2 separate regions of the Homo sapiens genome follow, and region 1 is linked to region 2. Evidence: fine-mapped QTL for protein levels in blood plasma. A gene starts in region 2. The other region holds a variant in brackets. All regions are shown on one strand. Distances are from middle to middle. Region 1 has its middle 87 kb from the start of OR4A47. Region 2 holds the start of MDK (midkine).

Evidence for each region. A credible set is the group of variants that fine-mapping cannot tell apart. PIP is the posterior inclusion probability: the model's chance that the variant is causal. The UK Biobank Pharma Proteomics Project read protein levels with antibody pairs (Olink). The fine-mapping took linkage between variants from a reference panel, not from the people measured, so its PIPs are less certain.
Region 1: its variant is the best candidate, but not a certain one, in a credible set for the plasma level of the MDK protein (UK Biobank, PIP 0.79).

Annotation. Positions count from the first base shown.
Region 1 is chr11:48,571,694-48,580,228 of GRCh38, forward strand. It overlaps the pseudogene OR4A45P. Among named protein-coding and RNA genes, the nearest start is that of OR4A47, 87 kb to the left of the region's middle. The variant G/A (reference allele first, on the strand shown) is at 4,259.
Region 2 is chr11:46,381,307-46,383,499 of GRCh38, forward strand. It overlaps MDK (midkine), which reads left to right and starts at 363. Exons shown (of 5, transcript NM_002391.6): 1 at 363-452; 2 at 751-827; 3 at 988-1,155; 4 at 1,281-1,442; 5 at 2,163-2,193. The coding sequence starts at 752. The coding sequence ends at 2,188. RefSeq lists silencers at 1-67, 498-607, 1,028-1,077, 1,053-1,347.

The DNA of each region.
Region 1 (8,535 bases), 2.2 Mb after region 2:
TTATAGAAGACACTATGGAGGATAATACTACCATATGATCCGGCAATCCCACTACTCGGTATGTATCCAAAGAAAATGAAATTAGTATCTTGAAGACATACCTGGGCTCCCATATGTACTGCAGCATTATTCATAATCACCAAGATATGGAAACAACTTAGATGTCCATCGACAGATGAATGGATAAAGGCAATGTGATATCTATATGTCTGTCTATCTATCTATCTATCTATCTATCATCTATCTATCTATCTATCTATCTATCTATCTATCTATCTATCTCTATCATCTATCTATCATCAATCATCTATCTAATGTACACATGCACACTTATACTAACATTCTGCTATTTTTGACAATATGAATGAACCTGGAAGGCTTAATAACCTCTTTGTTTTATTTTGTTTTTAATTGACAAACAGTAATTGTGTGTATTTGTGGAGTGCAGATGATGTTTTTATATCATATGTGATAGCATAGATGTACCTAGAGGACATTATGCTAAGTGAAATGATTTCTTGAATAGATATTTAGTGGACTGATTTTCAGTCTTTATTATTTATTTTCTTTTCTTTTTTTTATTATACTTTAAGTTTTAGGGTACATGTGCACATTGTGCAGGTTAGTTACATATGTATACATGTGCTGTGCTGGTGCGCTGCACCCACTAACCTGTCATCTAGCATTAGGTATATCTCCCAATGCTATCCCTCCCCCCTCCCCCAACCCCACAACAGTCCCCAGAGTGTGATATTCCCCTTCCTGTGTCCATGTGATCTCATTGTTCAATTCCCACCTATGAGTGAGAATATGCGGTGTTTGGTTTTTTGTTCTTGTGATAGTTTACTGAGAATGATGATTTCCAATTTCATCCATGTCCCTACAAAGGACATGAACTCATCATTTTTTATGGCTGCATAGTATTCCATGGTGTATATGTGCTACATTTTCTTAATCCAGTCTATCATTGTTGGACATTTGGGTTGGTTCCAAGTCTTTGCTATTGTGAATAATGCCGCAATGTCCAAAACACCAAAAGCAATGGCAACAAAAGACAAAATTGACAAATGGGATCTAATTAAAATAAAGAGCTTCTGCACAGCAAAAGAAACTACCATCAGAGTGAACAGGCAACCTACAAAATGGGAGAAAATTTTCGCAATCTACTCATCTGACAAAGGGCTAATATCCAGAATCTACAATGAACTCAAACAAATTTACAAGAAAAGAACAAACAACCCCATCAAAAAGTGGGCGAGGGACATGAACAGACACTTCTCAAAAGAAGACATTTATGCAGCCAAAAGACACATGAAAAAATGCTCATCATCACTGGCCATCAGAGAAATGCAAATCAAAACCACTATGAGATACCATCTCACACCACTTAGAATGGCAATCATTAAAAAGTCAGGAAACAACAGGTGCTGGAGAGGATGTGGAGAAATAGGAACACTTTTACACTGTTGGTGGGACTGTAAACTAGTTCAACCATTGTGGAAGTCAGTGTGGCGATTTCTCAGGGATCTAGAACTAGAAATACCATTTGACCCAGCCATCCCATTACTGGGTATATACCCAAAGGACTATAAATCATGCTGCTATAAAGACACATGCACACGTATGTTTATTGCGGCATTAGTCTTTATTATTTTCAAGCAAATACAAGTAATATTTTAGCTGAGACTTACAAGCTTTGATATTGTTGTAGTTTCATTATTATTAGGCCCAAATATTTTCTAACTTCTGTGATTTATTTTTCAATGGATTATTTAGGAGTGATTTGTTTAATGTTGAGCCATAGAAAATTTCTGGCTAATTTTAGTTTTTCATTTTTTAGCTGATTTTCTTGTTGTTCAGTGACATATTTTATTTTGATGACTATTTGAAATTCATTGAGAGTTGCTTTATGAACCAGCATATAATTGACTTTGGAAAATGTTTTATATGCTCTTGAAAAGAATGTGCATTTTGCAGCTGTTGTATGTGATCCTCTCATATGTCACTGCATCAGATTTATTAATGGTTTTGTTTAAACCTTAAATACCTTTATAAATTTTTTGTGTGTATATTCTAGCACTTAGAGTTGTGCTAAAATTTTCCTGTTATTGCTGATTTGCCTATTTCTCCTTTTAGGTCAGCCTGTTTTTCAAAAATAACATAAAGTTGTGCCAATTTATCATTTTATTCGTGTTACTAATTTTTGGCATTACAAACATTTATTTCTGGCAATATTTCATGCATGGAAGTTTGGTTTTGTCTGATATTAGCATGGAAATAATGTTCTTTTTGTCAGAACTTATGCAGTTTCTTCTATTATTTTATTTTCACTTTCTATCCTGTTATTTAGTATGTTTCTCTTATAAGGCTCTTACCATTGTGTTATGTTTCTTAAATAGGAGAAATTTGCTCATTTAAAAGGATAAAATTAATTATGTATTGAATATAAATCCCCACTTTTTTCTTGGTTTTGTATTTATTGATGTTACATATGATTAATATTCATGTTATTTATTGCTATATTTCTTCTTTCAATTAGTCTTCCATCTTTCCTGCATTTACTTTTTTCCATTTCAGAGGTTTTTCCTTCTTCCTAGAGATCATTCTTCTTTTTTTTTATTATACTTTAAGTTTGAGGGTACAAGTGCACAAAGTGCAGGTTTATTACATATATATACATATGCCATGTTGTTGTGCTGCACCCAGTAACTCGTCATTTAACATTAGTAATCTCTCCTAATGCTATCCCTCCTCCCTCCCCCCATCCCATAACAGGCCTCAGTGTGTGATGTTCCCCTTCCTGTGTCCATGTGTACCCATTGTTCAATTCCCTCCTATGAGTGAGAACATATAGTGTTTGGTTTTTTGTCCTTGTGATAGTTTGCTTAGAATGAAGGTTTCCAGTTTCATCCATGTCCCTACAAAGGACATGAACTCATCCTTTTCTATGGCTGCATAGTATTCCATCGTGTATATGTGCCACATTTTCTTAATCCAGTCTATCATTATTGGACATTTGGGTTGGTTCAAGTCTTTGCTATTGTGAATAGTGCCACAATAAACATACGTGTGCATGTTTCTTTATAGCAATATGATTTATAATCCTTTGGGTATATACCCAGTAATGGGATGGCTGGGTCAAATGGTATTTCTAGTTCTAGATCCCTGAGGAATTGCCACACTGACTTCCACAATGGTTGAACTAGTTTACAGTACCACCAACAGTGTGAAAGTGTTCCTATTTCTCCACATCCTCTCCAGCACCTGTTGTTTCCTGACTTTTTAATGATTGCCATTCTAAGTGGTGTGAGATGGTATCTCATTGTGGTTTTGATTAGCATTTCTCTGATGGCCAGTGATGATGAGCATTTTTTCATGTGTCTTTTGGCTGCATAAATGTCTTCTTTTGAGAGGTGTCTGTTCATATCCTTCACCCACTTTTTGATGGGATTGTTTGTTTTTTTCTTATAAATTTGTTTGAGTTCATTGTAGGTGGAAGTTCTGGCCAGGGCAATCAGGCAGGAGAAAGAAATAAAGAGTATTCAATTAGGAAAAGAGGAAGTGAAATTGTCTCTGTTTGCAGATGACATGATTGTATGTCTAGAAAACCCCATTGTCTCAGCCCAAAATCTCCTAAAGCTGATAAACAAATTCAGCAATGTCTCAGGATACAAAATCAATGTAAAGAAATCACAAGCATTCTTATACACCAACAACAGACAAACAGAGAGCCAAATCATGAGTGAACTCCCATTCACAATTGCTTCAAAGAGAATAAAATACCTAGGAATCCAACTTACAAGGGATGTGAAGGACCTCTTCAAGGAGAACTACAAACAACTGCTCAATGAAATAAAAGAGGATACAAACAAATGGAAGAACCTTCCATGCTCATAGGTAGGAAGAATCAATATCCTGAAAATGGCCACGCTGCCCAAGGTAATTTATAGATTCAATGCCATCCCTATCAAGCTACCAATGACTTTCTTCACAGAATTGGAAAAAACTACTTTAAAGTTCATATGGAACCAAAAAAGAGCCCGCATTGCCAAGTCAATCCTAAGCCAAAAGAACAAAGCCGGAGGCATCATGCTACCTGACTTCAAACTATACTACAAGGCTACAGTAACCAAAACAGCATGGTACTGATACCAAAACAGAGATATAGACCAATGGAACAGAGCAGAGCCCTCAGAAATAATACCACACATCTAAAACTATCTGATCTTTGACTAACCTGACAAAAACAAGGAATGAG[G/A]AAAGGATTCCGTATTTAACAAATGTTGCTGGGAAAACTGGCTAGCCATATGTAGAAAGCTGAAACTGGATCCCTTCCTTACACCTTATACAAAAATTAATTCAAGATGGATTAAAGACTTAAATGTTAGACCTAAAAGCATAGAAACCCTAGAAGAAAACCCAGGCAATACCATTCAGGACATAGGCATGGGCAAGGACTTCATGTCTAAAACACCAAAAGCAATGGCAACCAAAGCCAAAATTGACAAATGGGATCTCATTAAACTAAAGAGCTTCTGCACAGCAAAAGAAACTACCACCAGAGTTAACAGGCACCCTACAGAATGGGAGAACATTTTTGCAATCTACTCATCTGACAAATGGCTACTATCCAGAATCTACAATGAACTCAAACAAATTTACAAGAAAAAGACAAACAACCCCATCAAAAAGTGGGTAAAGGATATGAACAGACAGTTCTCAAAAGAAGACATTTATGCAGCCAAAAGATGCATGAAAAAATGCTCATCATCACTGGCCATCAGAGAAATGCAAATCAAAACCACAATGAGATACCATCTCTTACCAGTTAGAATGGTGATCATTAAAAAGTCAGGAAACAACAGGTGCTGGAGAGGATGTGGAGAAATAGAAACACTTTTACACTGTTGGTGGGACTGTAAACTAGTTCAAGCATTGTAGAAGACAGTGTGGCAATTCCTCAGGGATCTAAAAGTAGAAATACCATTTGATCCAGCCATTGCATTACTGGGTATATACCCAAAGCATTATAAACCATGCTGCTATAAAGACACATGCACACGTATGTTTATTGTGGCACTATTCACAATAGCAAAGACTTGGAACAAACCCAAATGTGCAATGATGACAGACTGGATTAAGAAAATGTAGCAGATATACACCATGGAATACTTTGCAGTCATAGAAAAGGATGAGTTCAAGTCCTTTGTAGGGACATGGATGAAACTGGAAACCATCATTCTCAGCAAACTATCACAAGGACAAAAAACCAAACACCGCATGTTGTTACTCACAGGTGGGAATTGAACAATGGAACACTTGAACACAGGAAGAGGACCATCACACACCGGGGTCTGTTGTGGGGTGGTGGCATGGTGGAGGGATAGCATTAGGGGATATACCTAATGTAAATGACAAGTTAATGGGTGCAGCACACTAACATGGCACATGCATACATATGTAACAAACCTGCAAGTTGTGCAAAACTGTGTGAAATACAATATTATAGAGGTTTTTGTTATTATGGAATTTTATCTTTAGAAAATATCATGTTTTAGGCAACTCTGTTAAATCACTGTTTTTTTTTCTATTAAAATATTAAATTAGTAGTTTGCATTGAAAGCCTAGTGATGCTTTTAGTTTTTAAAGTATAATTTTTTTTTTGAGATGGAGTCTTGGTCTGTCTCCCAGCCTGGAGTGCAATGGTGTGATCTCACCTCATTGCAACCTCTGTCTCCCAGGTTCACATGATTCTCCTGCCTCGGCTTCCCGAGTAGCTGGGATTACAGATGCCCACCACCATGCCCAGCTAACCTTTGTATTCCTAGTAGAAATGGGGTTTCACCAGGTTGGCCAGGGTGGTCTTGAACTCCTGACCTCAAGTGACCCACCCACCTTGGCCTCCCAAAGTGCTGGGATTACAGGCATGAGCCACTGCGCCTGGCCTAAAGTATAATATTTTTAGTTACTTAAACTGTAGAGGTAGTTCACATACCCTATTTTTTATAAGTAAACGTTTAAATTGTCAAAAGGATAATCCTGTTGAAATCTAGTTTTATGATGTAAGAGGGAAAAGGCACTAAATATTGCAGCAAGTAAGGTGTAAAAAAACCAGAATTGGCTATAGACTACATTATTCCCTTGTGTTCTTCAGCAGGTGTGTCTCTATCAGTCTATTGCTTCAACAATGCCAGAACTCTGAAATCATCTGGAAGTGGTAATATGATGGTTCATATGGAGTGTTCATCACAGCTGGCTTCTGGAGACAGCTCAAACTCTCTCTGCACACGTCCTCTTCCACTGCCAGATCTATGTAAATGGAATCATCCTATCTACATTTGAGGTTCAGTAATTCTGCAGTTTTCCTCAGCAGCGCATAATTGAAAGTTTGGGTTTGTATCTCTACTTGTCCCACTGTTATCTGTAATTTAAGTTTGTCCTTAACCATCAGATCTAGAGACTCTGAGAAACAATGTGTTTTTTTTTTCTTTTGAAGTATCTTTTTTTTTTTTTTAATACTAGGATGTTCTGTGTTTGTTAAGGCTACCTCCGAAAGCCTCCTGGGTCACCTCAGAGACCTATAGGACGTTGCACTTTCTGTATTTTGTCACTAAAAGGAATCTTTCTGAAGAACATTTTAAAAGAATACAGCCTCACTTAACTATCCCATTAATCTTATCGCTTGTGAAAACTCATTTATTAATTACAGTTTCCTTGTTTTTCATTTTAGCCTTCTTTTCATTTCCTGAGCTCTTTCTTATGGTGGGTCCAACTTTTTCACTGTAATTCTGCTTGCTTATCATCAAAGTACATTTGGCCACTGGTAAAATTACTATTCATATAATTAAATCATTAATTTATAAGGCATACAATTTTATTGTGTGCCTCCAAAACGTTTTCCTGAATTACAGGTATCTTATCCCTTTTTTTCCTGGAGTATGTCTGTAAATCTTTTCAAGTTGACAAAGATCTGCATGATTTGTTCTGATCCTATATTAACAATGTAGCATTCAAGAACACTAATTATAGCTATCATTTATTGAGGACTTACCAGGTGCCAGCCAGTGTTCCAGGCATTTTACTTTGTTTTAATAAAACAACAACTCTAAGAGGTAAGGACTATTGGGATCTCCATTCTAAAAATGATGAAAGTAAAGGGCAGAGAGTGTTAGTAAATGACCCAAAGTCTCATAAAAAACGGTGAACCTGAGTGAGATAGTTCAGAAGATGTTATTCATGGTGCTACCCAGATCATATTATAAAGATACCACAAGTACAAACACAAAGGACTAAATCTATGTCAATTTATTTATTTAGAGTTGCTTACCACCACCAGAGAGTGTTTCTTGAGACTAAGAACCTGTTGCCTATTTATCGTAGCTGATTTCTGTGCCCAGAAAAATATTTTTAATAAGAAGTTATTAAATGTATGAATGGCTGTTGGGACTTTAATTCTTCTTCTGTATAGAATATTCACTAAACTTAGTGGTAGAAATCTTAACCTCTGTCTGAATCTAAAATGTTTGAGGAGAAGTAGAATTGTCAAGGAAAAAGGGGCTCTTTGATGAGGAACTCAAATTTGAGTTCCTAAATATTTGTTGTGTGTAAATCTCTATTCAGGATACAACAACGAAGACATGCTCTGTGACACAATTGATGTAATCATATTCCTGTTCACTATTTCATTACAGGTCCTGTTCTCCTGAGCTCTCACCTCTGATACAAGCCTGAAAAAAGAGTAAATGAGACAAAATAACAGTATTACAGAATTTGTCTTCCTGGGCTTCTCTCAGGATCCTGATGTGCAAAATGCATTATTTGTCATGTTTTTACTCACATACATTGTGTCAGTGGTGGGGAACCTACTCATTGTCATGACTATTATTGCCAGCCCTTCCTTGGGCTCCCCAGTGTACTTCTTCCTCACCTGCCTGTCATTTATAGAGGCTGTGTATTCCACCACCATTTCTCCTGTATTGATTGTCGACTTCCTCTGTGATAAAAAGACTATTTCCTTCCGAGCTTGCATGGGCCAGCTGTTTATAGACCACTTGTTTGGTGGTGCAGATCTTTCTTCTGGTGATGATGGCCTGGGATCGCTACATGGCCATCTGTAAGCCACTGCACTATTTGACCATCATGAATCAACAGGTTTGCATCCTTCTGTTTGTGTTGGCCATGACTGGAGGTTTTGTGCATTCTGTGTTTCAAATTGTTGTTGTATACTGTCTCCCTTTCTGTGGCCCGAATGCCATTGACCATTTTTACTGTGATATGTACCCATTATTGGAACTGGCATGCACTGACACCTACTTTATAGGTCTCACTGTGGTTTTCAATGGTGGAGCAATCTGTATGGTCACCTTCACCCTTCTACTAATCTCATATAGGGTCATCCTAAACTCCCTTAAAACTTACAGTCAGGAAAGGAGGCATAAAGCCCTGTCTACCTGCAGATCCCACATTACCGTGGTTGTCCTGTTTTTTGTTCCCTGTATTTTCATGTATGTTAGACCTGTTTCAAACTTTTCTATT
Region 2 (2,193 bases):
TGAGAACGGCCCGGGCCTTGGCGTACGGCAGGGGACGACCTGGGATGGGGGCAGCGGGCGGCGGCGCAGGGAGTGGGCCGGGGGCCGGTGTGCGCGGGCGGGACGGGGCCCGGGGTCGGGAGACCACCGCTCGGAAGATGGGGCCGGGAGAGGCCGCCGTCGCAGCGCAGAGGGCACCGGCGGGGAGACGCGAGGACGCGGGGCCGGGAACACGGACGCCGGAGTAGAAGCGCGGGGGGCGCGGGCTGGAGCGGGGGCGGGGACGCCGGGGTCGGGGGCGGTGCGGGTTTGAGGGGAGGGGGCGGGGCGGGTCCTTCCCTGGGGGGGTGGGGAGAGGGGGCGGGGGCCCATGTGACCGGCTCAGACCGGTTCTGGAGACAAAAGGGGCCGCGGCGGCCGGAGCGGGACGGGCCCGGCGCGGGAGGGAGCGAAGCAGCGCGGGCAGCGAGCGAGTGAGCGCGCGGCGGCCCCTGGTCCGCCCGGCCGCGGCCGATCTAGGGGCTGGGGGCTGGAGGCGGGGGTGGGGGTCTGAGCTGCGTCCTGGGCTCGAGGCGTCCCCCGGGGAGTCGCCTCTTAGCGGTGCGTCCGGGCTAGCGGCGAGGGGCCGCCCCAAGTCTTCCCACCGCCGCCACCTTAGCAGCCCGACTTGGGGCCTGGAAAGTGGAGCACGCGGAGGTGGGAGGGCCCTGCACGCGGCCCCCGGTGGGGAAGGGGACGGGCCAGGGATTCAGACTCGGGCTCTCCCCTCAGGATGCAGCACCGAGGCTTCCTCCTCCTCACCCTCCTCGCCCTGCTGGCGCTCACCTCCGCGGTCGCCAAAAAGAAAGGTGATGGGGGATGATCGAAGGAGGGCTGGGGACGGGCAGGCGAGGCCCCTCCACTTCTGGGCTGGGCCGCCTGGGTTCCTAGCCTGGAACCCCAGGAAGGCGGCTCCCGAGGGAGTCTCCCCGTGCCCCAGTCCTGAACTCTGTTCCTCGCGCGTTGTAGATAAGGTGAAGAAGGGCGGCCCGGGGAGCGAGTGCGCTGAGTGGGCCTGGGGGCCCTGCACCCCCAGCAGCAAGGATTGCGGCGTGGGTTTCCGCGAGGGCACCTGCGGGGCCCAGACCCAGCGCATCCGGTGCAGGGTGCCCTGCAACTGGAAGAAGGAGTTTGGAGGTGAGGCGGGGCGCAGTCAGAGGGCAGGAGACGGGGGGCACAGCCTCGCCGAAGCCTGGGCGGACCCTTGGCGGAGGGCGGGGCCGCGGGCCGCGCAGCGCTGACCTGGGCCGCTCTCTCGCCAGCCGACTGCAAGTACAAGTTTGAGAACTGGGGTGCGTGTGATGGGGGCACAGGCACCAAAGTCCGCCAAGGCACCCTGAAGAAGGCGCGCTACAATGCTCAGTGCCAGGAGACCATCCGCGTCACCAAGCCCTGCACCCCCAAGACCAAAGCAAAGGCCAAAGGTCAGCGAAAGGAGAAGGGGGTGGGGCTGTCGCGGGGGGCTGCCCCCCCCCCCCCCCGCCTGTGAGGGGACAATTCCAAGTTAAACCTTAAGTTTTGAGTCCTGGCCAGTGGCTTCCTGACATCGCCTCACTTGGCTTCCCTGCCTGGAAAAGTCTGAAGATGGGCACTACAAGAGAGGCCGCAGGTGATGCTGGGGACATAAATCCTCCCTGGCCCAAATAGGGACCAACTCAAACTACTCCATTGGAGCATCTGGCTTAGGACCCAGGGAGAGTGTCCTGGAACGGCTTGCCTTTGTCAGCTCTCCAGCCACGGGCAGCATTTGGTCAGCTCTGCCCTTTCTAGTGTTGGGAGGAGGTCAAGGCCCACCCTGGGCCTCTCAGCTCACTCGTGACTCAGCCCAGCGAGGCCAGCAGGGCAGGGGTGAATCTGCCCGCTTCTCAGGTGAGGAGGCTGAGGATGCCCAGGGCTGCTGTGACCAGGACTAGGACTGGAAACTTGAAGGTTTTCTGATCCCAAGTGGAAATAGGAAGCTGGGGATGTCCCATGTCCACATCACAATGGCTGCCCCATCCCCTGCTTCCGAGTCAGCTGATTGGAAACCACTAGGGGGCAGAATCTTCTCCTTCCCTGATGCCCGGGTGTTTGTGGAGCCGGCGGTCTGCAATGGGTCAGCCTAACTGCTGATATGGTATTAATATTTCTTTCTTGTTTTACAGCCAAGAAAGGGAAGGGAAAGGACTAGACGCC